Regions from separate parts of the Homo sapiens genome. Here region 2 is reported to be linked to region 1. Evidence: microRNA targets listed by miRTarBase, many of them from high-throughput screens and not tested one by one. Region 1 holds a microRNA gene; the other region holds the end of a gene's coding sequence.
Evidence for each region. The annotated mature microRNA hsa-miR-4756-5p reads CAGGGAGGCGCUCACUCUCUGCU and lies in region 1 at 846-868, shown strand. An mRNA with a match to its seed (bases 2 to 7 or 8) in the 3' UTR can be bound and repressed. Matches are read on the target gene's strand: a 7mer-m8 pairs with bases 2 to 8, a 7mer-A1 pairs with bases 2 to 7 and ends in A, and an 8mer does both.

Region 2: miRTarBase lists TPM3 as a target of hsa-miR-4756-5p. The part of its 3' UTR that is shown has no 7-base or 8-base seed match.

What each region holds. Positions count from the first base shown.
Region 1 is chr20:54,066,168-54,069,319 of GRCh38, reverse strand. It overlaps MIR4756 (microRNA 4756), which reads left to right and starts at 835; the gene lies at 835-912. All of the region lies in intron 1 of BCAS1 (brain enriched myelin associated protein 1), which reads left to right. RefSeq lists an enhancer at 1-7.
Region 2 is chr1:154,165,303-154,168,302 of GRCh38, forward strand. TPM3 (tropomyosin 3) reads right to left here. Exons shown (of 10, transcript NM_152263.4): 10 at 1-2,638. The coding sequence ends at 2,635. It also overlaps the pseudogene RN7SL431P. Among named protein-coding and RNA genes, the nearest start is that of NUP210L, 12 kb to the left of the region's middle.

The DNA.
Region 1 (3,152 bases):
ATTTTCACAAATTTCATGTTAAAATACTATTCATCTCCATGGCTGAGCTTTTTGGTGTCCCTTACATTGTTCCCCCGGAGTCCAGGGCCTGATCCGCCTCAGCCTCCTGGGGATCCTGAGCTGATCACAGCAGCTTCAGGCCCTGGGTGTATATACTCAGGGTATGTAGAGGGTGCTTCCTCCTAAATAAAGACAACAGACGGGGCGGGGCATGCTAAAGTAGTTTCTCATTTAAGTGAGGGTGGGGGAACAAACCAATGTCCCAAATCACAGAAGATTCTTTTTTTCCAAAGAGTTCTGGAACCCAGAAGGGTTTTGTTTTTAGGAAAAAGGCATGAGCTTTGGGAAAAGCAATGGGCCCGTTAAAGCCCATGGATTCTGCCTGCTTTACCATGACAAGAGATGTGGAGGGAGAGGAATTGAAAAAGGCTTTGGGTTGGGGGCGGGGGTACCTTTGCACCTTGCAGGCTCATCTGTCCTGCTGGAGTATTAGATGTGACTTGATTGTCTCTGTGTCTGCAGCTTCTCTTCAAGCCAAGTGCCCTGCCCTGAAGCAGTTCAGGATTTGAGTGCCTGAGTCACGTGGACCCAGGTTCAAACCCCAGGTGTGCCTCCCCGTAGCTTTCTGACTGCTACTCTTGGGCAAGTAGGACTAGTAAGGTGCCTACCCTCATGGAGGTGACGTTCGTGAGATGAGGGGATGGCATTGCTCAGCCTTGGTTTCTTTATCTGTGCAATCAGGGAATAATGGGACTCTGCAAGGGAAAAGGAGACAATGTGTGTGAAGTGCCTGGCACCAGGGTCAGGGCAAGGGTGAAGCCAGTGAGCACCTGGGGGATAAAATGCAGGGAGGCGCTCACTCTCTGCTGCCGATTCTGCACCAGAGATGGTTGCCTTCCTATATTTTGTGTCCTGCTATGCTCACCCTGGTGCTGCCTGGCACATAGTAAGCCTCCAATTAAAATTACCTGCGATTATCATGCACTTAACAATGTTTGGTGCAATAATAAGACTATGAGAGCGAGCTCTAAGATTTTTAGGATTACCATCCGTTTGTGCAAACATAATTAAGTACTCCGAAAGCAAAACATCAATCACCAAGCAGCCCTAAAACATCCAAGGTGATTTTGATCAAGGCACCCCTGCCCCTGGACCCACAAAGTCCCATACCAGGAATCAGGGCTTGGGCAGTTCAGTGAGGACTGGATTTCAGTTCCCTGTGTCCCCTTGTACAGGAGGCAACCTGTAGCACTGTACCTGGCACTCCTGATAATAGCTGCCGTGTTCCTAGCACTGTGCGGGCACACACATGGAGCTGCAGGACTGTGGGGCAGGCAAAGCGGGGTTGTTCTTTCCTCCTGCAAGGTCTTTACTGATGTTGGGGGCAGAGGGCTGGTTCTGCTGGGTGTGCCAGCCTGGCCATGTTGGCGTCACCCTCAGCTGAGCAGTGAGGAGGGCCCCTGGGTTACCTACATTCCATTGCATTGATCGAAGGTGTTGCTTGTTTACTTGGTGACTAATTCTGTCACCATTCCACCCTTCAAAACCACCCCCCCTCCCATTCAACAGTCGTCTAGCTGCCTGCTGGTGATGAAGTTTCAGAAGTGCTTTCTCCAGGCCAGCTTGCATGGGGTTTGGCGTTTGGCCTGTTTCCAGGAGGAGGGCCTATTATTAATCTGTAACTACAAGGAGGCGACATGGACCATCAATCACTGTGTAAAAGAGGAGGGATTTGAGGGCAGCTTCCAGGAGGCCAATTCACTCATGGATCAGAACACAGAACTAACTCAATTATAACAATAATAAGATAAATGAATAATATTAGCAATAACTAACGTTTACTCACCTGAGTACTGCCAAGCCCTGGCGCTAAATCCTTACAGTGATTATCAGTGACCCTTCAATTGTTCAATCCTCACTTTATTTGATTTATTTATTTACTTATTGAGAGAGTTTCATTCTGTCGCTCAGGCTGGAGTGCAGCGGTGTGATCTCGGCTCACTGCAACCTCCGCTTCCTGGGTTCAAGCGATTCTCCTGCCTCAGCCTCCCAAGTAGCTGGGATTACAGGCATTGTGCCTCCACATCTGGCTAATTTTTGTATTTTTAGTAGAGACAGGGTTGCGCCATGTTGGCCAGGATGGTCTCAAACACCTGACCTCAAGTGATCCACCCACCTCAGCCTCCCAAACTGCTGGGATTACAGGCATGAGCCACAGCGCCCGGCCTAATCCTCACTTTAGATTGTACCATATATATTCCTTGCCTAGTTATAATTTTCTCATTGCAAGAATGAATATGCAGGAAATATTTTCTATTCCATGTTCTATTATATTACATATAAATATTTCATAAAACTATAACATCACTTATACAGCAGAAGAGACAGTAGAAAGTATGAAAATAGAAAAGTTAAAAGTCTAAACTCTGGACTTGAGTTTGCGAGGGTTAAGTCCTCATTCTCCCACTTACTAGAAGATGATCTGTATTAGTCAGCTTGGGCTGTGGTAACCAAAACACCACAGACTAGGTGGCTTAAACAACAGTCATTTTTGTTTTCTCATAGTTCTGGAGGCTGGAAGTCCAAGATCAAGGTTCTGGCCGATGCATTTCTGGTGAGACCACTCTTTCTGGCTAGCCAACAGCTGCCTTCTTGCTGTGTCCTCACACGGTTGAGAGAGAGACAGAGAGAGCTCTTTGGTGTCTCTTTTTATAATGACACTAATTCTATCAGATCAAGGTCCACCCTTCTGATTTCATTTAGCCTTGATTCCTTAGAGGCCACATTTCCAAATGCAGTCATATTGCACGTTAGGGCTTCAACACGAATCCAACACGAATTTTGGAAGGACACATTTCAATCCATAGCATGATCTTAAGTGAGGAGTTTAAGTTCCCTGGGCTCAGGTTCTGCATCTGTAAAATGGGGACAATAAAAATACCTGCCTCGGCCGGGCCCGGTGGCTCACGCCTGTAATCCCAGCACTTTGGGAGGCCAAGGCGGGCGGATCACGAGGTCAGGAGATCGAGACCATCCTGGCTAACACGGGGAAACCCCGTCTCTACCAAAAATACAAAAAATTAGCCGGGCGTGGTGGCAGGCGCCTGTAGTCCCAGCTACTCGGGAGACTGAGGCAGGAGAATGGTGTGAAC
Region 2 (3,000 bases), not on the chromosome of region 1:
ACTCAAGAAGCAGAGGTTGCAGTGAGCCATGATCTCACCACTGCACTCCATCCAGCCTGGGTGACAGAGCGAGACTCCATCTCAAAAAGAGAAAAATAAATAAATAATGGAATGCTCAATATTCACTATCCCACAACCCAACTCTGCTTGTCAAAAATCCACTTTTGGAACCCAATAAAAATGAATATGCAAGTTTAACATGTTGGCTGGGCGCAGTGGCTCAAGCCTGTAATCCCATCACTTTGGGAGGCTGAGGTGGGTGGATCACTTGAGGTCAGGAGTTCCAGACCAGCCTGGCCAACATGGTGAAACCTCACCTCTACTAATAATACAAAAATTAGCTGGGTGTGGTGGCAGGCGCCTGTGATCTCAGCTACTCGGGAGGCTGAGGTGGGAGAACTGCTTGAACCCAGGAGGCAGAGGTTGCAGTGAGCTGAGATCAGGCCACTGAACTCCAGCCTAGGTGACAAGAGTCAAACTCCGTCTCAAAAAAAAAAAAAAAAAGAAAAAAAGAAAAAAGTTTTAACATGTTTATGAAGTACCCATTACATGCCTTCTTCCATGAGTTTTTCCAATTCATTCCCACTAGGATCAATCTCGTCCCCTCTACTCAATTCCCATAACACTATTATTTGTGGCATTCATCACACAGTATCTGTAGCTTTATGTATGTTTTCTCTCCTAGTAGATTCTAAGCAACTTGAGAGTAGGAATGGTGCCTCCATCTTTATTTCTGTCTCCATCTTAATATCCTATACCTAGAAGATACCAGGAAGTGTCAGCTGAATAAATGAATCTGAACCTTAATCTCAAAGGCTATGCGGCAGTAAGAAATGGAATGGACAAAAGGAAACGTGAATTTGATATGACTTAAAGTTTTAGATTAAGGAAAACTTCCCTACCTGATTATATCTGTTTAAAAGAAGAGCAAAAGTGTTTTTAACAGATGGAATCTTGCTGTGTTGCCCAGGCTGGAGTACTACAGTGGCTATTTATAGGTGCAATCCCACTACTGATCAGCACAGGAATTTTGACCTGCTCCATTTCCGACCTGGGCCAGTTCACCCCTTCTTAGGCAACCTTGTTGTTCTCCACTCCCAGGAGGTCACCATACTGATGCCAAATTTAGTGAGGACATCTGACCTGCATAGCACACTACAGTGCAGAACTCCTGGGCTCAAGCAATCCTCCTGCCTCAGCCTCCCAAGAAGCTACAGGCAGTACAGGCAAGTGCCATTGCACCCAGCTAAAAGAAAAGCAAATTTTAAATACATACCCTGCTGGGAAACTAAAGTACTAAGTGAACAACACTTACGTGCTTGGATTAGTATAATTCACAGCTATACTATTAAGAAATCTCTGCTGTGTAAATTGGAATGCGAATTCCTTTTTTTTTTTTGAGATGGAGTCTCTCTGTTGCCCAGGCTGGAATGCAGTGGCGCGATCTCCGCTCACTGCAACCTCCGCCTCCCAGGTGCAAGCGATTCTCCTGCCTCAGCCTCCCGAGTAGCTGGGATTACAGGCACCCACCCACCATGCCCAGCTAATTTTTGTATTTTTAGTAGAGACGGGGTTTCACCATGTTGGCCGAGCTGGTCTCGAACTCATGACCTCAGGTGATCCACCTGCCCCAGCCTCCCAAAGTGCTGGGATTATAGGCGTGAGCTACCACGCCCGGCCTATAATGGGAATTTCTAAAATGTTGATATTTAATTCCACAATATGAACCAAGGAAAATTTTACTAGCAGAAATTTATGTATGTAATAAATCATTAGCCTCATATGCACATTATTTGAAATATGCATGATTGGTCATTTTAGTTTTCCCAATAATAATTTATCACTTATCTTATATCCCACTAGTCACACACTAGCAGGCAAATGGTAGCAAGTCTCAAATATGTAAGAAAGGTTTAAAGAAGAAAAAGTAAAAAAACCGTCCAGAATTCTATCCATTGTGTATTTTTCTGTGACTGGAGTTGACATAATTAGTCAATCTTAGCAATAATGTATTGGGTTCACTGGGTGTTCTGAGGATGCACCATTTGAACCACCGGTAAAAGGGTACAGAATGTGTATTGAGAGTCACTTCAATGGCTTCTCAATGACACCACACCAAAGGAGGAATACCTGAAGAGAGAATGGAAACACTGCAGGCAGGATGATTTAAGAACCTGGAAATAAGGAATTTAATCTTGTTCAGCTTGAGGAGTATAACTAAAATTACTATCCTGAGTAACCTGTACTAAATCCATCACTCTGGTAGAATCAGATCAGCTGAGTTTAAATGTCAAGAAAAAATAGACACACACAAAAGTGGCTTTGATTACATAAGTCAGAGGAGGGGGAGCCTACAATAGCTCTTCCCCACATCACACCCCCAAGGCTCCTTCTTAGGGACAGCAACAGCTTTGTCAATGACACAAATGCAGGGTGGCATGAGGTTTCCAGCAGCTTAACATTTTAATTTGGGGTGGGGGTGGAAGAAAATACATAAGTTGCTTTTTGCTCCCCCATCCTAATGCCTTGGGGACCAGCCAGGCTGACCCAAATGGAATCCAGAGCGAGAGTGGGGCCTTGGGTTCCCCGAGGAGTAAAGGGGGCAGATCCAGAACAGAGCAGAAACGGTGATAATTATCTGTATGAAAAAGTAAGGATACTCTAGGTGAGAAGGACTAGCATCAATCTAGATAGCAAACTGGGAAAAAGGAAGAGGAAAAAAAGGAAGAGGTGGCAGCAGGAATAATAAAAGAGAGCCAGACACTTCAGCCTGAGAAATGTGGCTTCTTTTCAGGGTTAGTGGGAAAGATACAAAGAGGCAGATTAGCATCAAGGATCAGGGATCCACAGCAAACAGATGAAGCCCCAACAACTCTTTTTGGTGCTGTTTATCACTTGGCTTGCTTCTGGGACTCAGCTCAATTCTTAGGTGAATTTGGTATTTCCCATCTTGGGTAGTTCCCTGAACTTTAATATCAGGGAACCAATTAAACACACCCA